Linked DNA regions of Homo sapiens: regions 2, 3 and 4 are each linked to region 1. The links come from fine-mapping of genetic effects on gene expression. A gene starts in region 1. Each other region holds a variant in brackets. All regions are shown on one strand. Distances are between the middles of the regions. Region 1 holds the start of OMA1 (OMA1 zinc metallopeptidase). Region 2 has its middle 11 kb from the start of TACSTD2. Region 3 holds the start of TACSTD2 (tumor associated calcium signal transducer 2). Region 4 overlaps OMA1 (OMA1 zinc metallopeptidase).

What was found. PIP is the estimated chance that this variant, and not a neighbour inherited with it, causes the effect.
Region 2: its variant is fine-mapped to the expression of OMA1 in whole blood (INTERVAL, PIP 0.98).
Region 3: its variant is fine-mapped to the expression of OMA1 in whole blood (TOPMed, PIP above 0.99).
Region 4: its variant is fine-mapped to the expression of OMA1 in whole blood (TOPMed, PIP 0.94).

Annotation. Positions count from the first base shown.
Region 1 is chr1:58,544,806-58,549,805 of GRCh38, forward strand. It overlaps OMA1 (OMA1 zinc metallopeptidase), which reads right to left and starts at 1,921. Exons shown (of 9, transcript NM_145243.5): 1 at 1,898-1,921. It also overlaps a transcript of DAB1 not described here. RefSeq lists enhancers at 1,330-1,956, 2,170-2,359 and silencers at 1,570-1,659, 1,670-1,769.
Region 2 is chr1:58,584,516-58,592,396 of GRCh38, forward strand. No RefSeq gene overlaps it. Among named protein-coding and RNA genes, the nearest start is that of TACSTD2, 11 kb to the left of the region's middle. RefSeq lists an enhancer at 1-775 and a silencer at 1,842-2,136. The variant GA/G (reference allele first, on the strand shown) is at 3,839.
Region 3 is chr1:58,571,221-58,578,596 of GRCh38, forward strand. It overlaps TACSTD2 (tumor associated calcium signal transducer 2), which reads right to left and starts at 6,032. Exons shown (of 1, transcript NM_002353.3): 1 at 4,213-6,032. The coding sequence starts at 5,936. The coding sequence ends at 4,965. RefSeq lists enhancers at 2,510-2,709, 2,860-2,949, 4,800-5,495, 5,496-6,190. The variant C/T (reference allele first, on the strand shown) is at 4,328.
Region 4 is chr1:58,521,350-58,529,230 of GRCh38, forward strand. It overlaps OMA1 (OMA1 zinc metallopeptidase), which reads right to left. Exons shown (of 9, transcript NM_145243.5): 7 at 5,912-5,986. It also overlaps a transcript of DAB1 not described here. Among named protein-coding and RNA genes, the nearest start is that of OMA1, 21 kb to the right of the region's middle. The variant C/A (reference allele first, on the strand shown) is at 3,532.

The sequences.
Region 1 (5,000 bases):
CTAGTCTCGAACTCCTGGCCTCAAGTGATCTGCTCACCTCGGTCTCCCAAAGTGTTGGGATTATAGGCCTGAGCCACCGCACCTGGCCAGCCCAGCTAATTTTTTAATTTTTTTCTGTAGACACGGTGTGTCACTATGTTGCCCAGGCTGGTTTTTAACTCCTGGGCTCAACTGATCATACTGCACTGCGAAGTGTTGGGATTACAGTCATGAGCCACCACGCCTGGACTTTCGTTGGTTTTCCATGGCTTCCACAAACTCCTTCATATGGCGAACCAGGCCCTCCTACTACTTCTCCAGGCACCTTCCCCAACCCTCCTTCACCCATTCCTAAATTCCAAACTCCCTGATTTACTTACACCCCACAGAAAAAGAAAGCTCTCATCTCTATGTCTATGCACATCTATTCACACTGCTTAGCTCTGCACATGACAAGCAAACTCCTTCTCATTTCTCATGACTTGTGTAAAAATTTTAAAAGAATCCTATTGACACAGAAGGTATAAGCAAAAGCCCCAACACTACGCATATATAATTAAAACCATTATCATTTCTATCACTGACAACCAAGTGTCGTTTTGAATAGAAACAGTGCCTGATATTTTGTAATACCCGGTTTATCCTGAAGAAAGGGTAAAGAATGAGGGAAGAAATCTATTCATGCATTTTCAAGGAGCCAATCACTAGACTACAGAGCACATAAGAAAAAAAAAAATCAGGGCTGACATATTCTCTTCAAAGAGCTGTGGCAGGTCAACAAACATAGCTGGCAGACTTCTAGGATAACAAAATTAATGATGTGAGAAAATTAAACAATTTGGATTGTTAGCCTCTACGAACATTTCAGATCCTTAATTCTTTAAGTACCATCTCCGAATGAGCAAGTGCAGCACTCACTGGCACTCACAGCTGAAGCCTGGAAGACAGTTTTAACAACTCTTGCTGAAAATGACTATTTCTTCTCTAGTTTCTATGGAAACAGCTGTCAGATTGGCAAAAATAGGACATGTACTTTAAAATAATCATTCAAGCAAAGTACACACATGATGGAAGGCTTTAAAAAAGAATTGGACGGCAGCAGACTTGGTTCTTAAGCTTCCAAATGTCAGACTACACCCCTTCACCCCGGCTGAGAATGACGGAGATGAACCTAAATCCTTTTAGCGAGGGTTGCACGACCTTGATCAACGCCTGAATGCCAAATAAGGGATTTTCATCTCCCTGGACTACAATTTCTTGTTGAGGATTGCACGGCACAATAAAACTGTTGCTCCACACACAGGCGACATTTAAACAGTATACAGTGAGTTCTGTAGACGAGTTTACGAGGAAATTGTTAAAACTCCCCGGAACTGCTTAGACGGGGAATGTTCTGGTTTGCCCTGCCGAGTTTAGGCTGGAAAACGTGTTCAGTTTCTCCTGAAGAGGGAAGGGGTGAAAGAGACGAATGCCCGACGCGCCGGGAGGCGGTCCCCTCTGGCAGAGGTGCCGGGTGAGGAGCCCGAAGCCCCGCGGGTGAGAAACCCTGCTCTGAAAGCGGAGCCGCGGATAAGGGCGGGCTGAGGGGGAGGGCAGGCGGCCCACGAAAGTACTGCCACGGGGCAGACACACGGGGTCACCGGCGTGCCCCGGGCAAGGCTAGGGGAGAACCGGGCTCCCCCAGGACAGATCCCCTCCGTCTCCCGCCCCGGCGCCCCCCGCCCCTCCCCTCCACGCAGCCTTATCGCCCACCCACGCCTCCTCCCGTACCCCCATCCCCAAGGATCCCCACTCCTTGCCCGGGCGCCCCCGCAGGCGCTCTGCGCTCCGCCCCCTCCCCACTGCCGCACTCTGCCTCCTCCCCTGGGCACGATCCTACTCGGAAAAGCTGGGGAAAAGCGTCACCGTGAGGACTGACTCAAGCAGAAGCGAAAGCGGTGACACCGCAGACCCGACCTATGCGCAGGCGCGCACCCGCACTTCCTGCCCGCCATACCGGCCGGGGCGCCCTTCGCTCCGCCCACACCCGGCAGTCAATACAGCCGCCCAGAGTCGTTCTCCCAGCTGCCCCGGGCCCCGCGGAGACTGTGGCGCTCTAGCGCCTCCGTGTGGCTTAAGGCGGGACATGGCCCTGGGCTGGGCTGCTTGCCTAGGAACAACTTTCTCCCGTCTTTGGTGAGTTGGGTCCTCTAAAGAATGATCCACGCAAGGCTGTGTCCGTTGTAGTCTCTACGGCAGTACCGGCCAAAAGGGAAGAGACTCGAAGACTGCCAAAAGACGAAGGCTTCCTGGTTCTGAATCTGCATTCATAGAAATAGTCTTTGGAGTATGGGAACAGTGCTTTCATATGATTTTTGGAGGGACGCATTTTAAGAAAGATGAAGTATAATCTTAAGTGTCTGGAGGTTAAAGTAGCTGGCTCCAAAATTATGTGTATAGTATGTTTCATTCATTTCACCAAAACATATTTCTTGAGCATCAACTACATTTTAAGTGCCAAGGATGTAGCAGTGAACAAGACAGACCTGAATTTCGTGAACTTTATATCACAGTGAGGAAAGACAGGCGATTAAAAAAAAGTGTACAAATAAACACAAATAAATAAAAGTGTACAAATAAGCCAGTACAAATAAACACTGGATTGTGATGGATGAGTAGTGAGGTCTCATATTAGTTTATTATGTTTACACTCTGTGCACAATGAAAACATCTCAAAGGACATAAACACTATGTCAAAGGACATAAACACTATGAACAATTTTAGGTATCTCTTTTGGAAAATGTGTAAGTTACTGTTTCGTTTATCTTATGTGTATTTTATGATTTGCCTTTTACTTTGAAAGGGATATCCTGGAAAACCCCTGACAACTGGACCCCTAAAAACTGAAGTAGGAGGTCCTTCAGTCTTCGTAGGGTTTATCTCCCAAACTCTGGAGTGCACATGTCTTACCAAAGTTTCCAGCATGCTAGCCACCTCTTGCTCATCTTGCCTGGTTAGCATAATGTCATTGGTGAAATAGATGGGTGTGATGTTCTCTGGAATTTCCAGTTGATCCAGCTCCTTTTGGACTGCGCAGAGCCATTATGTCATTATCCTGGGTCCACCTGATTTCCAAAGGGGCCAGACTGGCAAGTTAAGTAGAGATATGGCAGGGATGACCAACCACTCTTGTATATTTCAGGTCTTTAATTATGACATTAATCTCCACCATCATCTCACTATCCCCTCAGATGAAATATCGGTTTTGATTTATTATCTTCACTTGGAAAGAAGGACAGCTTCAGAGGCTTCCCATTGGCTTTCCCCACCATGATAACTCAAGACCAAGGACCCTGAGCTTCTTACCAATGTGGAGATTGCTCCAGCTGCCCAATATGTACTCCCAATTATGCACTCAGGAACTAAGAAAATGACTACTGGATGGGTCAGTGTATTCCTGGACCCACTGTAAGCTGGACATTATCCAGGACTCTGCTTATTACCTGATCCCCATAAGCCCCCACACTTAGAGAGGAGCCATGTGTGTTACATACTTTGGGTAACACCTGTGAAATGTCTGGGTATTCCTCTTTCCTCAACATAAAATCAGTCAAGAAAATGGCCGTGGGACACAGACCAAAGAGTAATCATTAATTACAGTAAATATTTGTTTCAGTATTGCAGGATTCTTCTTTATAGGGACCCAACAACCTCTTAAGTCAACAGATTCTGTGGTCTCAGTGTGAAGATAGGCTCAGGTCTGAGACTTGAGCAATGAGCAGTGCCTTTTATTAAGCAACTACTCCCTGCATAGGATAAATAGCTTCTTGTCTTCCTCCAGTTGTAGATGTTAGGCAACACTCTTGTTGGCTGCCCGTCTGTTTTTCCCCTAGGGAGACCTTATGCTATTAAAGCCCTCCACAACCTCCTGTGGATCAAGCCCCCTTGGCTGCTCCTCTGCCCTTGGCAGATGTTACAGTAATTACATCTTCTGGTGTCCTCATGGTTAAAGCCACCACCTGGCTTCTACTACTTCAGGATCCTGTTATCCCAATGGATATTATCAAGCCCAGCCCTGTGATTGCCTCTCCTACCGTCAGCCCTTCCCTCCAGAGGAGAGCCTTCTCTGAACTTCTTAGTGATGCTAGTGCCCCTCACGCCAGTGCATTCCCCATGGCCATAGAATATGATGCATCCTCTGGGCCTCCCATGGAACATTCCCCTCTGTCTGCCTTCGGGCTCTACACACAAAAAAAATTCTTTCAGGCAAGTCCACTTCCCTCAGCTCCTCTGTCCTTCTACCATTTGCAAGGGCAATTCGGGCATTCCTGCTTTACTCTGCATGCACTATGGCTTTCTCTCAGCTTCTAATAGTCACCTAGCAGTGAGTTTACCCATCTTCTACAGTCCCAAGTCCCAAGAAAGTGCCCCCAAGACAATGAATTTTTATTTAGCCAGGCTTGTTCTGGAATAGGAATTAAAAGAAATTAAAGAATGTGTAAACAGAAACTCAGTTCTATGTAAGAAAACCCACCTCCCCCCGAGAAAGAGAAAGAGCTGGAGTCCTTTAAATATTAACTGCCTGTTTTTCTGTGGCTAGTGAGCCTTATCTCTCCCTTTCCCAGGCATTGTAAAGACCCTGTTTCTTTAGCTGTGCGCTGCAAGGTCACTAGACAGATAAACTCAAGCCATTAAGACACGTTTTTCCTTGAAAAGTAAGAAATGATGTAATGCATGCCTCAATTAATTAAATAACTGTCTTTGTTTCTTGCTTCTGTAACATGCTTCTCCCTGCACAGATCTCCCCCAACCCCATAAAATGCTTAAAAGGTAACTTGACTCTTTGTTCGGGGCTCAGTCCTTTGGATGTTAATCCGACTGGGCCGGTGCACCTAAATAATAAATCCTCCTCAACCTCTTGGTATCTCTGATTCCTTATCAATCCCGCCACAGTTCCTGCCCACTTTGATCAAGCACCTTCAGAAATCCCATTCCAGGGGTCCTCTCCTGGCTCCTGCTGGTACACGCTAGGTAGTTCCTT
Region 2 (7,881 bases), 41 kb after region 1:
TGAATTGCAAACCATAAATGGCCTCCTTCTCATTCTGGTCTCTTCATCTAGGGGCAGTCAGCTTCTCCTGTAAGGGCTTTACACTCTGGGGAAAGCCAGTAAAACACTCAGTGACTTTTAATTTCACTGGGCCCAACAGCTTCCAGACAGATTTGGCAACAAATAAAGAGAGATTGGGAAACCTTCTCCCTACATTCCTGAGGCAGCCACAATGCTCGAACCCCACACTGATGAGTCACGGTGCTTCCTTTCCCAGAGCTGGCCCGGCGATGTGTGATGCCCTGTTAAGGGGATGTGGAGGTGTTTGCTGTTTTTAACCACTTTCAGCTGTCCTTGAGATAAGGGCAGGTGGTGAGAGGTCTTAAGTGGGCTGCTGCTACTGACAAATTCGTCTGCCTTTCTGGACAGTCCTGATCCAAGTGAGGCTCCTTAGAGTTATCAAAAGGGGTCTTAGAGGACATGTATTCCAGTCTCCCACCCAAAGAGAGGTATCTCAGAATGCTAAACAGGTGCTTGTAGGCTACCTGTGATAATGCAACATCCTTACCTCCCCACAAGACAACCCATTCCAGTCCCAAGCAGCTTTACTAAGAAGTTCATCATAATTAAGGAAATTCAGTGCCTCTGTAATTTTCACAAACTGATCTAAATTTCTACTCTTGGAGCAAGAAAGAGTAAGTAATGTTCCCCTTTCACTCCTTGGTTCCTCAGGAATTTGAAGCCAGTTCTCCTGTCCCCAGACTTTCCCCTTTCCTGCTCTCTCCCTGCCTCTTCCATTGCCTTTCTCTAGTGGAACGTCCCTATCCCGTCATCCTTCCTCCTGTGCCAACCTCACACCCTAGGTGGTGGCAAGCACCATCTCCACCAGTGGCCCAGCCCAGCAAATGACATTATGAGAGATACCAGCAGAGGATTCTAGGGAAGCTTTGAGGAGGTTTTACTCCTGTTGTCTTGCCTTTCTACTCCCCTGTCTAGGAAGGCAGGAGTAACCCTAACAGCCCCTTACCTATCTATCAATTTCCTCTTTTCTAGGAACAGATGGTTTCTGGGCAATACTTACAATAAATATCTACACTGTATTGAGAGCCTATTACCAGCCAGCAACTCAACATGTGTTTCCTCTATCCCTATAACATCTGAAGGGAGTGGGTTTTGTTATTCTCACTTTACAAATAAGGAAACAGGCAGAAGGGCGCTTGTCTAAGAATACACAAATAGTAAATGGAACAGCTGTAATTCACATTCTTTTCTAAACATATTTTAGAGACAGGATCTCTCTCTGTTGCCCAGGCTAGAGTGCGGTGATGCAATCATAGCTCACTACAGCCTCAACTCCTGAGCTCAAGTAATCCTCCCACCTCAGCTTCAAGTAGCTAGGGCTTCAGGTACGTGCCACTGCACCCAGCTCACACCCCTTTTTGCCTGGTTCTGAGATTATGCTTTTTCTGTGACATCATGCTGCTACAGACCATATAAATTTCCTGAACCCAACATGTTTAAAACTCCAGCATGGTAGTATAGAAGTTCACTGGTATACAAGTTCAAGTTATACCCTAACCTCTCTTACTCATGCTGAATCAGAACATCAAAAATGGCCTCTCAAGAGAATCCAAGTAAGGATAAGGCTTTGATTTTATCCGACAACTTACTACCTTTAGATGGTATGGATAGTAAGTTTTGCTATCTTCTCCTTTTGGGAAGACAGACAAGTATTATGGACACTGCAGATGAATACAGTACAGCCTAGTGCAGGTGAATTTTGTTTTGTTTTGTTCAAAACAAGAAAGCAGAACAGAACCTTTCAGTCTCCCTGGTAGAAGATGCTCTCCTTAGCTCTTGTGCTGCCCCTCCCACAGACATTAATACCCAAGCTACATCCCTGGCATGGCTTACCCTCCTGCTCCTCCCTGCGCCTGTTCCTGTCCATCTCAAGACATCTCCAGTCACATCGGTCCAGGGCTGAGTGTGCTGAGGGGCTCAACTGCACTCCTACTCTCAGCCGTCATGAGTCACAAGACTCACACCAGGGATGGAAGTAGAGGCGAGGAGGAGTGGGAGAGAGGAAAAGTTCAGAAGTCTAGGAAGAATGAGGCAGGCAGGAAAGAGGAGACTTCATTGTTCTCTAATTCTGGGATGTGTGGGCCCAAGACAAAGGGCAAGAAAGTCCTTGTTGTTCCTCTGACCTTAGTGGGATGTAAGAAAATGGATTAATTTCTTTGGATTCATGTGAGAAGTCCTGGCTCTGTCAGCTGATCTTCAACTAGCATCTTTCAAAGCATGACTGATGGGAAAATGAGGACTGCCCTCAAAAGCTTCTCCAAGATCATGGGAGGCTGCCAATTGGAAGGTACCAGAAACCAACACAACTAAATTGCTCAGCACCCTGAACCTCTTTCCCCACCCACACTACTGATTTTTCATATACTTTCCAGCCTTCTATTCATCCGTCTCTTCAGCCAGGCAGGCAGGCAGGCAGGCATCCTCACTGAGTGCCTCCCAGGTGCCAGGTCTGTATTGGGCTGAGGAGGTACAATGGCAAGTTACACCTAACCCCTGGCTCCATGGAGGTTACAGTGCACACAGCAACTACCTCCTAGTGGGGGTTTAGTACATATTTGTTAAATAAATAACATGGAAACATATGAATAACTACAATATGGATTTATAAACCATATCTCCTGTCCTCTCCACTTATACAGATTATTTATATAGAGTTGCAGGATACATCAGTAGAAAAACCTCACTGGCTCTTAAGGTTGTCTGTTTTTCTCATTTTTTAAAGGTAATGAGTATGTAGCAATTTGGAGGTGGGAGCAAATACAATCCAATAGATAACATTTGCATTTTAAAAGGCATCTGAAATAAATAACATTTAGGCAGAAAAGACAACCTAAACAGATAGCACATGAGGAAAAAAATCCAAATAAATAACATTGAAGAATGTTAAGGCTGGAGATAGCCTTCCAAGAAAGCTAGTCCAGTAGTTCTGTTTTGAGTCACAGAATCCATTTCTGAAGACAGTGATGGATTCTCTCTTCAAATAATGCAACTGTGCACAAAGACAGTATATTTTGCACAGATTCCAGAGTCACAGACTCCCTGAAATTCATTTCAAGGACCTTCCTGACCTCAGTTTTAAATTTCTGGTGGGACTCATCACCTTCATCTCACTTAACAGGGACAGTGAAATGACTTGCTCAAGATCATCAGCCAGTTAGTGAAAACATTAGGCAGTTTGGTCTTAAGAAGGAACTCAGAAACCAGTTGCCTGAGTTCAAATTTTGCCTTTGCCATTTACTAGCGATTTGACCTCAATACATCATTTAACCTCCCCCTGCCTCTATTTGCTCATCTGTAAAATGGGGATAATAATAGTTAACCTACTTTGCAGGGTTATTGTGAGGATTAGGAATTAATCCATGTTAAAAAAAAAAAAAAGTTGGAGCAGGGGTTGGTTAGCAAACTAGTTAGTTAAAGGCTAGATAAACAATTTAGGCTTTGTGTGCTAAGGATCAAAATTAAAGATGAGACTGGGTGCGGTGGCTCATGCCTGTAATCCCAGCAGTTTGGGAAGCTGAGGCGGGCAGTGGCTTGAACCCAGGAGTTCGAGACCAGCCAGGCAACATGGCAAAACCCTATCTCTACAAAAACTTTAAAATTTAGTCAGGTGTGGTTGTGTGTGCCTGCGGTCCCAGCTACTTGGGAAGCTGAGGTGGGAGGATCACTTAGGCCTGAGAGGTCGAGGCTACAGTGAGCCTTGTTGGCGCCACTGTGCTCCAGCCTGGGTGACAGAGCAAGACCCTGTCAAAAAAAAAAAAAAACAAATCAAGATAATTAT[GA/G]AGTACTTATATAATTATTTAACAATGTAAACAACATCTCGGCCAGGCTCGATGGCTCACACTTGTAATCCTAGCACTTTGGGAGGCCAAGGAGGGTGGATCACTTGAGCTCAGGAGTTTGAGACCAGTATGGACAACATGACAAAACCCCATCTTTAAAAAAATCCAAAAATTAGCCCAGCGTCGTGCCATGTGCCTGTAGTCACAGCTACTTGGGAGGTTGAGATGGGAGGTTGGCTTGAGCCCAAGAGGCGGAGGTTGCAGTGAAGTGAGTTGTGATTTTGTCCAGCCGGGTGACACAGCCAGACCCTGTCTCAAAATTTAAAAGTGTCTCAGCCCATGGACCACACAAAAACAGAATTTGGCCAGTGTAGTTTGCTGACCCTTAGCTTAAAGCAGCACCTGGCACACAATAAATGCTCAATAAATGGTAGTTTCTATTATCCAAATCAGGGCTCTTTCGATTGCTCTGAACTGCTTATGCTCCATGTAACATAAATAACAGGAAACAAGGTGCGGGCTGACCAACTTAGCCAACCTGTTTGTTTAGACACAAGCCAAAGTTACCAAGATGTAACGCGTCTCCGTGCTCCTCCCTGTATCAGAGCCTTCCTATTCGTGTCCTGCTCCAGTAGGTAAAGCAGCCAATGCTCTAACTGTTCTCAGGGAAGCCTCAAGTCAGGTGCCATATGAAGACAGGCGGGAGGAGCTGGAATGGTTTCTGGGCAGAGGTAGAGACCGGAGAAGAAGAGAGGGGCCCATCCCACAGCTCTGAGGTGTCCCAGACTCTGGAGCACTATGCTATCTTCCAGCTGTGGCATCCTGGCCACATCCTGCCTCTTGTACCTGTAGAAGGCCAGTTCTGTCCATCAGCCACCTCCTGCTACTTTAGAGCAGCCCTGCCTGGGGCAGATCCAGACATAAATTCAACCACAGCTCTGAGTTAGAAGGGACCCCATCATCTACTTCCAATCACCCCATTTTACCAATAGGAAAATTAAGGCCTGGGTTGGAGAAGTGACTTGCCTGAGGCCGCATAGCAGGCACAGTTATGCTGGGATTAAAAACCCAGGCTCCTGCCTCCCAGGCCAGTGCTTTTTTCTTGCCTGAGTTCCTGCAGGTTTCTCTTTGGCGCATAATGGAAATACCAGTGGAGTTGTCTGGTGCAGTTTTTTATGCTTATCAGAGAGCAGCTGGATTTGATGTAGATGCAGCCGTCTTCAGAGGGTATTCTCTTGTTTATCAACATTCCTTGAGCTCCTTCTATGTGCCAGGCTGTGTGCTGAGCACAAAAGATGAAAAGAGAGCCAATGTCTTCTTTCAAAGACTCAGTTTACAACTGGATGTGATTATTGTTTCTCATTGGTTGGTTTGCGTATTTGTTTGTTCATTCAACAAACATTATTGAGCACATACTTTGTGTCAGGCATGGCACTAGATGCTGGGACTAAGCATTAGTAAAGCCTCTGCCTTTGCAAAAATTATGATCTAGTGAGAGAGATACACAATAAATGAAATAAACACAGAATAGTATGCACATAGGTGTTTGAAAACAAGTTCTCCAGGAGAAAAAAGAAAGTACCCTAATTTGTAGCCTTTGGTGATTTTCAAGTAGCTAGTCAATGGTGAAGTCAGGATTTGAACTCAAGCAACTGGTTTCTGAGTTCCTTCTTAAAACCAAATTGCCTAATGTTTTCATTAACTGGCTGTGTGACCTTGAACCAGCCATTTCACTATCCCTGTTAAGTGAGATGAAGGTGATGAGTTCCATCAGAGATTCTAAATTGAGGGCAGGAGGGGCCTTAGTGTACTCTCCCTGTGACCAATTTCAAGCTATCAACATGGTGTCACTGAGTGCCAATTTGGGAGTGATTCACACAGCTGGCTCTTGCAGCCCCATATTGCATGGGCCCTAGACAGATGACAAGTGCTCTGAAGGAAAAGAAGCAGGTTACAGGGTGGGAGAGTGAGGGAGGCTGTGCTATCTTAGATTGGCTGGTCAGGCAGGTCTTTCTGAGAGGCAAGATTTGAACAGAGACCTGAATGAAGTAAGGAAGCCAGATATTTAGTGAATATTTAGGAAATGAGCATCCCAGGCAGAGGGAACAACACGTGCAAAGGCCCTGAGTCAGGACTGTGCTTGGCCCTTTGAGGAACGGCGAGACCAGTCTGCAGTGAACACAGGATTTAGGGGAGCACACAGAGGGGGAATTTGAATTCAACAGGTATGTGCAGCAGTAGTGAGGGCAAGAGTTGTTAGCTGGACAAAGGGATGATATTTGCAGGGTATCTTAAAACATGAGGACAGGTTTAACCAGAAGGGTTGGAGTGTGGGCAGAAATGGAAAGAGAAGAGAGCTCTGGAAAGAAAGAATGGTGTGAGCAAAGGTGCCAAAGGTTGGAACAGAGTAATATGGCGGGGGATTGGGAGCATATGGCCAGTCAAACCTGCACGGGTAAGTGAGAGCCACATCGTGAAGCTAGTGATAGTTTTTCACCTGGGATAGACATATAGGCAGGCATTTGTGGAGGATAAATTTGACAGGGAGACACAAAAGGCAAAGAGGCTACTCTGGAGGCTACTGGTACAGGATAGAAAGGATGGATGAGTGCTTGATTTAGGGAAGAGAGAAAAGGATGGACGTGGAACAATAACCTCATGTCTCTGTAATGATTTACACTAAGGGCTTTCATGCATGCCATTGCTACTCACCTTCACAACAGCCCTGCGAGGTACATGGGATATGTGGTGTGGTGGGTTCAAGATGGTGAAAAATCTTTGACACTCCTCCCTTCACTTCGCCTTGAATCTGGGCTGGGCCCATATCTCATTTATAGCTAATAGAATGTAGCAGAAGTGACACAAAGGGACTTCCAAGACTAGGTCACAGGTAACCATTTTGTTTCTGCCTTGGCGTCTTGGCATGCATGCTCTATGGGAAGCCAGCTGCCTTGTGAGAAGTCTGACTACTCTAAGAAGAAGTCCCAGCTAGAGATGACACATGGCAAGAGAGGTGTCCAACCAGCGTCCAGACTTGCAGCCTTCCCAGCCCAGGTAAGTAAAAAAGCCACCTTGGACATCAAGCCCAGTCAAGCCTTTGGATAAGTCCAGCCCCAGGGGCCTCTGACTGCAGCTGCGCTAGACCCCAAGCAAGAACCACCCAGCTGAGTCCAGTCAACACGAACCCTGAGAGGTAATAATTGTTGTAAGCCATTAAGGTTTAGGGTGGTTTGTGATGCCACAATAGATAATCAGAAGATACCTGATATTATCCCCATTTTAGATGGGGAACTGAGGCTCAGGGAGATCACGAGGGCTTGTCCAAAGTCATATGGCTAATAAATGCTAGAGCCAGAGCCAAAATCCAGATGTGCTGACATTTATAACTGTTGTTTGGACTCCTTTCTGCTCTGTCATTACCATCCTCTCCCATGCCCTGGGCCCAGAAAGGTTGGGGAGGGAGGGAGCCAGCCATCTGAGTCTTTTTGCCAGCCCAAAGGAGAGGTCTACTCATGCCATTTATAGCAGCCCAGTTCTCAGGGGGGTTAGAGAAGTGTGTCCCCTCCAGCATCCTGATGCCCAAAGGGTACTCCCTTCTGGCATGTCCTCATGTTCTTCCTCTCTCTATTCAAGTCCTTCTGTCAACCAGCTGTCCCCTTGGGAATGAAGAAACGCACATTTACTGAGCATCATCTGCCTAAGCATTTTTACATGATGTTAGCTCATATAATCCATATGGCATGAATACCAAGTAGATACTGCCACAATTGGTGGGAAACTGAGGCTCAGAGGGGAAGATCTTTGCCCAGACTCACACAGCAAGTGAGTTTCAGAGCCTGGATTCCAACCCAGATTTCTCTATTCTACCATCTGCATTCCTTCCACTGGAAGATGGGGCTAATGTTATGCAGACATGCCACCAGAGCATCTGATGTGACACAGGTTCTCAGTGTATGCCACATTCCCTTCCTTTTCCCTCCCTCTATTTCTGCTCCATCCCAGAGAAATTCAGAACCTGCCAAAAGGCAAGAGAAGTCCTTGA
Region 3 (7,376 bases), 28 kb after region 1:
AAAGAGCAGCAGAGAAACCGTATCTGTTCAATTCATATGTTCCCCAAACTAGTATGATATCTGGCATCAAATAAGACAAAAAATATTTGAGGGAACAAATAAATGACCAACGCTAGGCATCTCTGAGGACACAGACTGTCCAACTTGTGCCTGCTTCAGGGTAACTGCTCACAATCACTGGGGCCTTTGCACTCCAGCTAGAGCCAACACTGGTCAAACTGGCTGCTTAGTCGAGATCACCCCAGTCCCACTGAGGTCAGATGAGGAGCCAGGAGCTCTATGAGCTAGAGTGAGTGGATATTACTAGACCCATTTTATAATGCAAATGTGAGGTTCAGGGAGGTGAACTGCCATATTCAAGATAATACAGCTGGAAAGCAAGAACAAGGACTTGAAGACTCATCTGCTGGCATAGTTTAGTACCTTTTCCCACCTTCTGTATTATGTTGCTTCAATTGCATATGACAATGTGCTTCACATAAAAATATTTGGGTGGCCAGGACATTTCCTCCAACAGTATCAGATAACAAGGGAGTGGAGAGTGCTGAGGCCACCTAAGAGATCAGCTACATCCAGCATGGGAGAAAGCTGGGCACAAGGATTCCAAGGAGTTAATGCTTATCTAGTCAAGATCCCTTTCCTTGCAAGGAGACAAGATGCCTTGGTAAGCTGAGCTGCCTGCTGATAAACTGCTGGTTAACATGTTCAGGCTATCACTGTGGATCATTTATCTTTCCCTTCTTACCCAGATCAATTTGGCCTCCTTGTACATCATGAACCTAAGAATTTCCACTGAAATTGATGACATATGGCTTGCTGCAGTGCCAGGGGACACAACCCCCCTGTTTACAGTATAATTCCCTAATAGTGAATGGGCCCAGCCCCCCATCCATCCCCATCCCTCCCAACAATTCCTTCTTTGAGCTCACTATAAAAGGCTATAATGAAACCTCTAATGATATTTAGCAATGACAGGGAATGGTTCCAGGAGGGAAATTACAGCTGGAAGATGTCCACCACGACCTGCTAGTAATTGTAAAGGAAATCTACTCAGGTCTCAAAGGGTCCTTTGTTTTATATAAACAGGAGGCTTCCAAGGTTGTTCTAGCCTCCTCTAATAGCAGAAGTCTATGGAGAGATATCTCCTTCAGAAAGTGGAGTGGAAGTTCTGTTCACATTACATTAGAAAGAACTCACTCATTACTAGTATTTTTCCCCCAAGAACTTGGGGGACCTTCCTCTAGTTCTAACAAGAGTGACTATTTACTAAATACATCATCAGGAGACTAACCAGGGAGGCAAGTGGAACACCAGACAGGATAGAGTCAGGGTGTTAGAGCTCTAGGGTGGCTCTGCCCCTCTCTGTCTGACTTGGGTAAATCCATTCTCCTCTATGAGCTTCAGTGTCTTCATCTATAGAATCAGAATGTTGAACTAAATGACTCTCTAAGCTTTTTCCAGCTCTGACATAACATTCTGTGATTCCACTTGGAAAATGGTAAGCAAAAAATTTGTAAGCAGAGGGAGGAATGGGTGATCTTTAAAAAAATGCTTCAATAAAAGAAACAGAATGGATAAAGCCCTGGTGACCTACACAAGGAAATCAGTCAAGTGTCCTCAGGAGGCTCAGAAGGCAGGCTGCAACTTGCTGGGCAAGCCACACCTGCTCCTCACATTCCTTCCAAGGGCAGCCCCAGGTCTGAGCTCTCGGCAGTGAACCAGTGAACTGTAAGGTATTTTTTTGTTTGTTTGTTTGTTTGTTTTTGGTGGGGAGGTGGGTGGAATCTTGGAGGCAGCTGCTCAATCCCTGAAGATAGCTGGTTCTTAAGACCCGACCCCAGCAGAGGAAAGCTGATTTTCAGAACAGAAGCATGAGGGGGCTCTTCCTTGGAAGAAGTGAGTAAAAAAAGGCATCTTAACCTGCTGGCTACCCAGCAGGAACAGGAGGAAATAAGTATAATGGAGACATGTGGCTAGTTTTTACAGCTAATAGGTAAAACACATCTTTAAAGCACATTAACAGTAAAAATCTTAGCTACACAAGGCAAAAGTCCCAAGCCCCATATTTGGTATATGCAGGGTGTGTGTTCATGAATTTACTCAATGTCTTTCAAATCTCAGTTTGCTGACATGTGACATGGATGTAATCTAAACAATTTAAAGTACATGAAACTTTCACTAAGCACCAGATTGTTTCAGACGCTCATATCAATTACTTCATTTAATATTCATAATAGCGAGAGAGGGATTTATAGTTTCATTTAACTAATGAGGAAACAGGGGAGGTAAGTGACTTCCTGACCCAAAGGAATAAGATTTGACCTCAGGTTTGTCAACATTTGGGTTACTTCCAGTAAGTCAATGGCTCAAAGAAGATTATATGTGTGAAAACGCTTTGCAAATTATAAATGCTATAAAGTGCAAGAAGTCACAGTCCTGAATTAATGCAGAAACCTAAATATCATCCAGAAGCAACATTCTGATGGAGTAAGGGGCTTTTTCAGGGAGTCTGCTTTGTTCAGTTGCCCACTGGATCCTTTATTTTCCAGGCAGACAAGTGAGTTTTTAAAAGTGACTCTTGAAACAATGAGGCTTTCTGGTTCCAGCTGTGCTACAGAAACATTAATCTTGAGAATTCACTTGCTCTTTTCATGTGTGAAATGCGGGGTTAGGTCACAGGTGATCACCAAGGTCACTTCCGTCAAAGCACTTCAGTGACTCAGAAGTGGAAAGCACCCAGTGAGACCTAGAGTGGGGAGTCTCACTCTCATTGTTAGAGAGCCAGTTCTAACTTCAGGTACTTGGGCCACCCTTCCTACTGTAGGAGAGCCTGCTCACATCCACCCTCTCCCCTTGGTAAGTCTTATTTGACCCTGGAAGGAAGTTTGGAGCCTGGAGGAGTTTCTCCCTTGATGAGTGGCAGCAGACTTTGAGATCTCTGGCAATCCCACAGTATCCACTCCACCAGCGCATAGCAGCCACAGCCCTAAGTTGAGAAGCCAGTAGCTGAGAGCTATCTCTCCCCAATTCTTACTGGTGTTTCAGTCTTGGGAGGTCCTCATAGACTGTAGAAACAGGATGGGAGGAGGGGCATGAAATGGATTCCAGGGGAAGAAACTGCAGTCCTGGATCTAGCTTAGCTGTTGCTGAATATGTGATATACCAACCACTCCCTTCCTTTGTACACACCTAGTGTTGTATCAGTTTCTCAGTTACTGTAGTAACTTGTTTACTTGTGGGGTACCCCACAGTCACACACATAAATGAACGTGAATGACTGAAAAGTAAGAGATAAGTGTAAGAGGGACAAGTGGCTAGTTTTTACAGCTAATAGGTAAAACATATCTTTAAAGCACATTAATAGTAAAAATCCCTGGGTGCAGTGGCTCACACCTATGATACCAGCACTTTGGGAGGCCGACGCAGGTGGATCACCTGAGGGCAGGAGTTCAAGACCAGCCTGGCCAACATGGTGAAACTCCATCTCTACTAAAAATGCAAAAATTAGTTGGGCATAGTGGTGGGCACCTGTAATCCCAGTTACTCAGGAGGCTGAGGTAGGAGAATCGCTTGAACCCAGGAGGTGGAGGTTGCAGTGAGCTGAGCTCACTCCACTGCCCTGCAGCCTGGACAACAGAGCAAGACTCCATCTCAAAAAATATATGTAATAAGTAAAAGTCTTAGGAAAACAGCCTGTGCACACCCAGCAAAAGTGTAGGGCCCACTGCAGACTGGCTCTAATTATGTGGGAAAGTCGTTTAATCTTAGAGCCACAACGCTTTGAGATTAAGTGATTTGCTCAAAGGCTAAATGGAAATAGTACCACTTATTTCAAAGTAGGGCTGGGATTCAAAGGAGGTACAGCTCTTGAACTAGAGTTTTCTGTCTCCATTGGTGATAAGCCTTGTTTAGAGATGACCAAAGACTGGCACTCTTTTTCATAAAAGCAGCTAGTTTTAGCTTCCTCCCTCAAGCTCACCCTCCTGCAGTTTGAAGGAAGTTTCCAAATAATCTTATTTAGAAAGAATAGCATTTACACTGGCCAGTTAGGATATCTTAGGACACACCAGAGTAGCAACATGAAACACCCACTTCTGGGGGAAAAAAAAGTGTTATAATTTGAAATAAAAAAAAAATACAAGTCTTGGGAAATTAGAGACCAATGTGATAGAAATCTGGAGGGACTTTTCACAAATGCCGACTTCTGGTTTGTGCCTTTCCCATATTTTATTAAATTCGTGTTTTATTTTAAAAAATTACAGCAACATTATCAAAGACAACATATGTACAAACATTTTACAAAAAAGAACATTACCAATATCAGTGG[C/T]AGTAAGGGCAAGCTGAAGAATAAATAGACTGAGTTTCCGGGCAATGTCTGTCCTCAAAGACATCCAAACTGCGTTCAGGCAGCTGAAACAGGCTTCTTTCCCAGTGACAAGCATATGTGGTCAGTAATACAAACGATGGTAAATGAGGCTACTACATAGGCCCAGTTAACAAACTCCTCTTCTCCTCGGGTAGGCCATGATACAAGTGGAACTCATCAAATAATTTAAACCCAAGGCGATAACAACGCTATTTCCCATCTAAACTCATTTAAGCCTTCACAATGTCGCAATGGATTCAGTTACTTGCAAACGATCCCGGGTTGTCATACAGATACTTGTTTTTTACACATAACGCTATGCCATCCCTTCCTTCACTGCCCCAGTCAGGTTTCCTGTTGTTGGACCGAAAGGGGATACATTTTAGAAATGCTTCCTTCAAGACAGAAGTGAGAAAGAAAGGAGACCCTGAGGCCAGGATCTATTAAACCTGGTGTGTGCGCAAAAGGGAGGGGGAAGGCAGGAATTTGAAAGGATAAACGTCTCCTTTGCGCCGAGGAATCAGGAAGCGTGACTCACTTGGGTCTGGGACGATACCGAAATCCGGTACCCCACCCCATCCCCTGCCCCGCCGGGTACCTACAAGCTCGGTTCCTTTCTCAACTCCCCCAGTTCCTTGATCTCCACCTTCTTGTACTTCCCCGACTTTCTCCGGTTGGTGATCACCAGGACGGCCATGCCGGCGACGAGGGCCACCACGACCACCACGATGACGGCGATGAGGCCGGCGGTGAGGCGCTTCATGGAGAACTTCGGGGGAATCTCGTCCAGGTAATAGATGAGCGTGCGCTCCACCTGCAGGGGTTCTCCGCGCACGCGCAAGTCCAGGCCGCCGCGGCCCTGGAATAGAGACTCGCCCTTGATGTCCCTCTCGAAGTAGTAGGCGGCATCGCCGATATCCACGTCACCGGCGGCCTTCTGAGACGTGTTCTGCCGCAGCTCGATCTGGATGGTGGGCTGCTCGTAGTGCACGGCCGCCACGAACTTGGGGTGCAGCCGATAGCGCTCGCGGAAGAGCCGCCTCAGCTCGGCGTCCAGGTCTGAGTGGTTGAAGGCGCCGGCGGTGGGGCGGTGGCGCAGGTCAATGAGGATGTGGTGGGTGCGCACCAGCTCATCGCAGCGTAGGCTCAGGTCGCCCTTGTCCGTGCGGCGCACGCCCACCGAGTTCACGCACCAGCACACCGACGTCTGGTTGCACTGGCGCGCCTTGAAGCGGCCCTCGGGGTCGCAGTCGGGGTCGTAGAGGCCATCGTTGTCCACGAGCGCGTGCTCACTCGGCCGCACCAGCGTGCGGGCGTTCTTGGGGGCGCTCATGCGCGCCTTGAGCAGCAGACACTTGGAGGTCAGCGTGGAGCAGTCGACCGCCATGCCCGAGCCCAGCGCGCGGCACTGGCAGCGGCCGCCGGGGCCGTCGGGGCTGCACACGGTCATCTTGTTGGTGGGACACGTGCAGTTGTCCTGCGCGGCCGTGTGGCCGGTCACCGCCGCCAGCACCAGCAGCAGCAGCGGCAGCCGCAGCGGTGGCGGCGCGAGGCCGGGGCCCCGAGCCATGGTGGGGCGGAGGAACGCGGACCGGACGCGGGCGGATGAGGCGCGGGGACTCGTCGGGGCTCGGGCTCCGGCGTCTGGGATGGTCTGCAGGCGTCTGCCGCCCGGCCGCTCCCTCCGGCTCTTATACTCTACCCGACCTGCCCGGCTGGTTCCACCACCGACCGTCCCCACTGGTATTTGGGTGACACATCCCGCCCCCCTCCCCGTCCCACGGAAGGCCAAGCCGGCCCTGCGCCGCCCGCGATAGGATCAGAACAGGGAAGCTGCTCCCGCCTCCTCCGGACCGAAAGCCGGGAAGGGGAGAACCGATACTCACCTGTAGGCTTCTGGGGACCCGCCCTCGGCGCGGCCTCCTGCTACAGACCTGGCGCGTCTGGGCCGCTCTCCCGGCAGAAAGTCTAAAGAGTTTCATTGCAAAGTGTGGCTCGCGACTGTCGCGCTCTCCTCTATACGCGACTCCCTTTTCGTTCTTTCCCAGCCCCAGCCCTCCCTTAATTTCTCTCACTCCCTCTCTTCTTTGTCCAGTTCTCACAGTAGCACACGTTTATATAGTTTACAGTTCACAAACATTATCTCATCCTAACACCAGTCCTGACAGGTAGGGACTATCAGACCCGTTTTATAGGTGGTACTGATGAGGCTTAAAGACCTGAAGTCACACTGCTATCAACTTCCTCATATTTCTGAGAGGGGTCTTTGGCACCCTGCCTAGGAGTGATGAGACCTTAAATAAAGTGTTTGTGGACACGAAGTGACACAGAATCTGAAGGGAAGTTAGGGAAGCAGTTCTGTTACTCACCATATCAAGGGTAAAACACAGGTATCCTGGTGTCCAGAGGGTTAAAAGTTCTGTTAAACACTAATTTTCTGTACCTCACACAAGCGCACACACACAGGCACACACGCACATAATATTTATTTGTGCACTGGCTATAAAGAGACAAACAGGAACAAATTCTTAAAGAGCCAGCAAGACTGTAAAGAGTTTTTTGTACAATTTGATTCTAACACAGCAAATCGTTGCTTTTCTTTTCCTGTATCCCACGTAAGTAGCTGAACCATGTAAATAATGAAAGAATGGAGCCTGTGAGAAATTGCTTGTCTGCCACTGTGTGGCTAGTTTCATGGCATACAGGGGTTGCAATCTCTTTTTGAGTCATTGAGAAAGTCTAGAGTTTCAAAGCTGTGGTAAAATTAACAATAATTAGCAAGCTATAATTATTCCCAGGTCCTCCATCAAAGCACATTTTATATGTTCAGCATTTAATGTGCACCACCAGTCGTGCAAGGGTGTTGTTTAGCAGATGAAAGCCAGCTGGGCCTCTGTCCCATTAATTTTCACGCAATTCCTGAGGCAGGAAGATTGAAATATATTCTGCCTTGACAGACAGAGGAAGCAGAGACATGTGAGGGACAATTTCTTTTTTCTTTTTTTTTTTT
Region 4 (7,881 bases), 22 kb before region 1:
AAATGATAGTAGTATTCATCTTAAGTTAGGGAAAGAACCACATATGAAACCCAAAAAATGAATGCAGAATAAAATAATGAAAAAAAATGGTAACTGACATAACAGAAAACAATTATATAATAGAGACAATAAGCAAACCCAAAAGATGGTTTTGAAAAGATTGATGAAAGTGATAAAATCTAGCAAAAAAAAGACAAGACAAAGAGCACCAATATTAACAAAGGGGACATTTAAAAGATACATGTAAAATAACAGGTATCCTTCAGACATTAAAATATAATAAGAGTATATTAAAACAACTTCATGCCAATGATTTTGAAAATTAAACAAAAATTCCTAGAAAAACTACAAAAACTGAAACAAGAAATAGAAAAATCTGAATAGTTCTATATCTATTAAAGAGACTGAATCCATAATTAAAGACAAACTCATGAAGAAATCTTCAGGCCCATATGGCTTTACCCAGGAATTCTCCAAACGTTTAAAAAATAAATATAGCTAATCTTACAAAAACTCTTCTGGAGAAGAGAAAATGAAGAACACTTCCCTGATCAATTTTATGAGGCCAGCATAACTTTGATTCCAAAACCTGACAGGACATTACAAGAAAAGAAAATTCTAGGCGACTATCTCCTTTGAACATAGGATAAACATTCTAAACTAAGCATTAAACCAATTCTAGCAATATATTAAGGGATAATTGACAAAATTAGGTATATTTCCCCAAAAATGCAACTTAACTTTAAAAAAAATTAATGTAATTTGCCCAATAACAGATTAAAGGAGAAAAATCATATAATCATCTCAATACAGGCAGAAAATGCAGGGGGAAGGAGAACATCAGGAAGAATAGCTAATGGATGCTGGGCTTAATACCTAGGTGATGAGTTGATCTGTGCAGCAAACCACTGTGACACATATTTATTAATGTAACAAACCTGCACATCTGCACATGTACCCTGGAACTTTAAAGTTGAAGAAAAAGTGCAGAAAATGCATTTGATAAAATTTAATATATATACATAATTTTTTTAAATCTTAGGATATTAGAAATGGAAGAGAAACTCTTTCATTTGATAAAAAAGTATCTATAAAAAGCTTACAACAAACATCATAATGGTGAAATACTGAATGCTTTCTTGCCCCTAAGATCAGGGAGATACAAAGTTGCCCATCACCAACTTTGTACTAAAGTTTTTGGCTATTGCAATAAAGCAAAAATTAAAAAGTACAGTTGACCCTTGAACAACATGGAGGTTAAGGGCACTGACCCCTCTGTGCAGTCAAAAATCCACATGTAACATTTGACTCCCCCAAAACCTAACTACTAATAGCCTACTGTTGACCTTGCCAGTAACACAGTAAATTAACATGTTTTGTATGTTATATGTATTATATACTGTATTCTTACAATAAAATAAGCTAGAGAAAGGAAAATGTTATTAAGAAAACCATAAGGAAGAGAAAATATATTTACTATTCATTAAGTGGAAGTGGATCATCATAAATGTCTCCATCCTTATCTTCACACTGAGTAGACTGAGAAGGAAGAGGAGAGTTGGTCTTGCAGTTCCAGGGGTGGCAGAGGTAGAACGGGAGACAGGAAAGGCAGGCATAATCAGTGTAACTTAATGGAGATACTTTGTAATTTCTGTTGTAAAATAAGTCAAAAGTAGTCTTGAATAATCAGAATCCTTCTGCTAGATTGTCTAATGTCAATTTGTTTTCTGGCACTACTATGTCTTTTCTACCTGGCACCATTTTGGAAGCACTCATCTCCATCAAGTCATCCACGGTTAATTCCCCTGATAAGGTGTTTCTATTAGCTCTTGAATTTCTCTAAGATCTGTATATTGAAACCCTTCACTCCCCACCTTTTTTGCCATATCCATAATCTTTTCATCATTTCCTTGACTGGCTCTGTGTGGTCACGCACAACATCTGGATAGTTTGCTTCATCAACAATTTATTATTTCAGGCTTGGTGGCTTTCATGGCTTTTTCTATAACAATGATGGAATCTTCAGTGGTGTAAACCTTACAGACTTTCATAATGTTCTATCGGGGTTCTCTTCAATAGCAGTAACAACCTTTCCCTAAAGTACCCTGTTGTACTGAGCCTTAAAGGTCCTTATGGCCCTCTGATCTGAGACTCAACTAGGAATGTTGTGTTTGGGGGCAAGTAGACCATTTGGACGCCTTCAGTGTTGAACTCATGGGGTTCCAGGTGACCAGAGGAATTGAGAATGTAAAAAGAACTGGCAGTCCTGGCCGGGCGCAGTGGCTCACACCTGTAATCCCAGCACTTTGGGAGGCCAAGGAGGGCGGATCACGAGGTCAGGAGATCGAGACCATCCTGGCTAACACGGTGAAACCCCATCTCTACTAAAAACACAAAAAATTAGCCGGGCATGGTGGTGGGTGCCTGTAATTCCAGCTACTCGGGAGGCTGAGGCAGGAGAATGGTGTGAAGCTGGGAGGCAGAGCTTGCAGTGAGCCGAGATCACACCACTGCACTCCAGCCTGGGTGACAGAGCGAGACTCCATCTCAAAAAAAGAAAAAAAGAACTGGCAGCCTTTACTGGCAAGATAATTCTTAACTTTAGGAACAAAGCATGGATGGAACCAATCCAGAAAAAGCGTTCTCATTGTGTAGCAGGCCTTTTTGCTTTACAACCAAAAGACTGGCAGCTGGTATTATCTTTTTCCTTAGAGGCTCAGGGGTTACCAGCTTTATAGATAAGGAAAGTACTTACAAATCCAACTCCATTTCCGCAAAACAGTAGAGTTAGCATATCCCTTCTGCCTTAAATCTTGATGCTCATTAATAAATGTCCTTTATGGCATTATCTTTTTTCCAGAATAGCACACTTTCATCTGCATTAAAAACCTGTTCCGGCAGCTATTCTTTCTCCTTAACGATTTTCTTAAAGCATCTGGGAATGCATCTGCTGCCTCTTGGTCAGCAGAAGCTGCTTCTCCTGTTATCTTGACATTTTTAAGCCAAATCTCTAAAACTATCAAACCATCCTTCGCTGGCATTAAATTCTCCAGCTTTAGATCTTTCATCTTCCTTTTAAGTTGTAATATAATGACTTTGCTTTTTCTTGAATCATATTAGAGTCTATAGATAGGCCTTTCTTATGGCAATCCTGCACCCACATAAAAGGTGCATCTTCTATACAAGATAAAAGTCTTTTGCAAAAAGTGCAAGGTTTTCATGCTTGCTGGTAGAGTTGCAGCTATGACTTCACAAATTTTCTTTTCCTTTTTTCAACGGTCCTTATTCTGGATTCGTTTATGTTGAAATGGCAGGCAACCACAGCTGCAGACCTCAATCTACAGTATATATCAAGCAACTCAACTTTTTCTTGTAATATCATGAGTTTACTTCCTGGGAACATTTCCAGTATCACTAGCAGCAACTCATATGGGTCTCATGGTATTACTCAAGGTGTTTACAGTATTGCACTAAACACAATGAAAAATATGCAAGAACTGCAAGAGACCATTTACTAAGATACTCAATTTA[C/A]TGGAGAGAAAGCTGCTCACATGGAGATGATTAGTGTCTTCTGGTGTTTTAAGTAGATATTCACAATATTTGAGATCACTGCATTAGCAACAGGAAGTGAATACAAAACTATAAGAGTAGTACCATAGGTACCACAGTTAATTCTATGCAGTTATGATTTAATACTGCATCTTTCTGTTTGTTTACATTTCTCTCAACTGCAAATGGCACCATGTATGGTCTGTGTAGGCACACGTTTTGATAAATTTTCATAACCGATTTGTGTTTTATGGTAAAAAATTATAAAAGACTAATATCTACATGTATTTTATGCATTCATGACATATCCTTTTCTTAATTTTTTCAATATTTCTAAGCTACATGGTTCACCTGTGAGTTTTTTCAAATTGTTGCACATTTCCAAAAAACCTTCCAATATATTTATTGAAAAAAATCCTATGTATAAGTGGATCTACACAGCTCAAAAACATGCTGTTCAAGAGTCAACTGTATACAGATTGGAAAGGAAGAAATAAAGGTTGCTGGGTACAAGGTCAATTATAAAATCAATTGTATTTTTATATACAAGCAATTTACTTTAAAAATGACACTATTTATCATGACATCAAACACTTAGCAATAAATCTAACAAAAGATGTGTAATTCCTACATACAAAAAAATTTCAAAACATCGAGAAAAATTAAACATCTAAACAAACTGGAAAATATATCATATTTATGGATGGGAAGAATCAATACTACAGACACTAGTCAAGTGTCCCCAAATTCATGTATAAATGCAATGCAATTCCAATCAAAACCCCATGTGTTTTTCTATGTATGTATAATTTAATAAGCTATTTCTAAAATGTATATAGAAATGCAAAGATCCAAGAAGAGTCAAATCAATTCTGCAGAACAACACTGGAGGACAGAAGCTTCAGGTATCAACACTTACTACAAAGTTATAGTGATAATATGGTACTGGCTGAAACATAAACAAGCCAATGGAACAGAATAGTGTGTCTAGAAAGAGACCCCAGATATACTCCCACCTTTATGACAAAGAGACACTGAAGTCTGGTGAAAAAAAGGTGACTTTTTTCCATAAACAGTGCTGAGTCTATTAGCTATCCATAGGGGAAAAAAAAGATGTTGCCCTCTTCCTCATATTATATATTTTAAAAATAGTAAAGTTTATTAGAAATAAAGCAGGAATAACTTACTGAGATAAACAAAGATTTCCTAACCAGAACACAGAACACACTTAACATATAGGGAAAATCTGACAGACTGGAGTACATGAAAATTAGGAAATTCTTAATACAGCCAATCTGTGGCCCCCTTATGTGGGAACTTCTTAGTGCACGCAGTCTGATAATTCACTTAATCACATTTATTTAACATTCAAAGAACTGATTTTGCTTTTGTGAAGGAGTAATACCTTGATTTATGAAATTAAATCCATAAAACTTATGAGAGGTTCAAATAAAATGATTAATAGTTTTAATAACTACCAGAAACATAACAAAGGATCAATTAAAACTTGAATTTAATATGTGAAGTGGCATTGCTTTCACTCATTTTTTTAAAATGCAGTTTTACTTCTAATCTTAAATGCTACTAATAACACTCAGTTATCACAGGTGATTAAAAATAGCTGCCAGGTGCCCTGTTAAGTAGACAGGAACAAAGTCAACTTAAATAAAAGTAAAGGCCCAGAGCTGCTCTCTATGGCTAGCAAAAAAAAAAAAAAAAAGCCATCTGCTACAACAAAAATAACCTAAATGTCTGTTCGTCTACTGTTTATTTAAATGGTAGAAAATCAGTTTGCTTAGCCAAGATCATAGCTACAACAGGATCAACCTATCTTCAAGTGGGGGAAAACAACTACCTATCAACCTGTTTACTCAAAAAGCCTCCTTAGATCAGAGAAGCAAGGGGTAAAATATTGGAGTACTGGAGTAAAATAAAGAGATAGCATTAGCTTTCCAGAGGGACAAATGTTAAAAGGCCAGAGGGGATGACACATTACATAACCAAATGTTTTAAAATTTCAATTTGTATGTTTCATGTCTATGATCAAAAAATTTATACACGCAAAAAATTATTTCCAATCAAGAACTGACTTTCTTTTAATAGAACCTGATAATTACTATAATCTTATGGATTCTGTCTAAGGCATAATACAGCTTCAAATATAGAAGGGAATTGAGACTCTTCAGTTATACATTCTTTCAAGGTCCATAATCTTCAAATTTCTAGATTAACAGAAATTACATAAAGGGCTAATACAGTCCAACTCTCATTCTCTGCTTATGCCAAGCCTCATTAAAATAACACACGTTTATCTTTCAGCCTGGGAAGGGCATTATGTATTCTCAACTACTAAACACTTTACCTTTGCAGCAAGCAGTAGTCCAATTTTGTCAGCTTCGGCCTCCAATTTTCTGCTGTATGGTCTATTAAACATATACTAAGAAGAAATGACAGAAAAGCTCCATTAAGACAATTTATTTCACGAAAAAAGGAGTAACACAGAGAGATTTTTAAAAAACAGTTTCATGGAGTATCTAGGATAAAATTCCTATACTGTCTACTAACATTAAAATAACTCCATGATATAAAATATAAACACAGCCTTTATTTCCCTGATTAGAAATACTTTAAAAAATGATAAGGATATAAGTCATGCCTATAAATTTCTTGACAGTCTGTAGTATAAGGAATTTACTTCTATTTTTCCAATTATAGTCTCCACCTACTGAGTACAGGATTCACTAAGAAAGCTTATTGATGAAGGCTTTTTAATATGGTCAAGGAATATTTTGACCTTGAGTTTTAAAAGAAAATCAAGAAAACGTAGGCATATAATATCCAATGACACTACTAGACAATTTATTTCAGTAAAAAAATTAACCATATAGCAGAATGCTCTTTCTTTGATAAATTATCTTAATTTCCTTTTTCTTTTCTAAGTATTGATTAGTTGGGAAAATGAAATTTTCTTCTGACTTCAATAAAAAACACACATAGATACAGTAACTTTAATTTTCCTAATTACTTGTATTTATGTGAATGCTTTCCAGTTAAATTCTAATTTTCAGTAAGTACTAAAACTTTGTAGGAGATGAATCAATAGGCAGGACTTTTGAGAAAAGAGCTATTAATTGGGGAAGCAATCTTTCAAAGGTAGCCACATGTCTGTGATGGCCTGAAATAATATAATAAATCTGATATACAGTATGTGACCATTACAAATGACTTCCTTCCTTTTCAATCAGTCTGTTTTAGGTCAATGATGTATATCATATAATGCCTTCACTCCCCATGAGCAGGCTGCATGTGCCCCCGTCAAGTCTATTGATAACATAAGGATTTAAAACTGTGGCTTTAAAAAGAGAGAAACTTAAGTTCAAGTCCAAATACTGTTAACTTATTGTTAACCCTGAGCTAATTGTTTAACCCTGCTAAACCCAGTAGTATCATATGTAAAATGAAGCTAGTAACAGTTCCAAGCTCACAGAGCTGCAGAGGGGATTAAATGAACAAAAATAACAGCTCATATTTATTGAGCCCTGATTTGTGCCAGGTACTGTGCTAAGTGCTTTAAATTAATGATTCTAAACCTAGTGTGATTTTGTCCTCCAGGGACATTTACAAATGTTTGGAAATATTTATTACTGTCATAACTGAGAGGAGGGAGAGCTACTGACATCTAGGGAATGGGGGTCAGAAATGCTACTAAACATCCTACAGTGCACAGGACAACTCCCCCACAACAAAGAATTATCCAGTCCAAAGTGTGAGTAGTGCTGAGATTGAGAAATCCTGCTTTAAATGTGTCATTCGGTCCTCACAACAGATGAACCTCAGCAATTCCCACACCCTAATGACTTCACTATCAACATTCCTCTCTGCTCTCCAATCACAGTGAGCAACTTTCTAGAGAGAAACATCTCCTCGTCACCAAAATTATTGAGGGGCCTTGATTTAGGAAAAAATAATTCAAATAGAATCATTCCTACTTTATTTTCATTGACGAATTACAGTGAAGTGGCAGAATTTATCAAGTATTTCAAGAAAGAAATAGATAAATGTTATCTTTCTTATGACCAACTGTGCTGATTCCATTATAAAAAAAAGCAATCTATAGATAGATCAGGAAAATAACCACATTAATTCTTTTAATTTCCTGGCGGGTCAGTGACAGAAACAAAATTCAAAATATGAGATCCTACAACCTAAGGAATAACCAATCTTTTATTTTCTCTTTAAGAACCTTTACTTCAATATAAATGAAGCCAAATGACATGTTAATACTGAATAATAGACTTAGTTATCCAATCTCAAAAACAATTTGTCTCATAG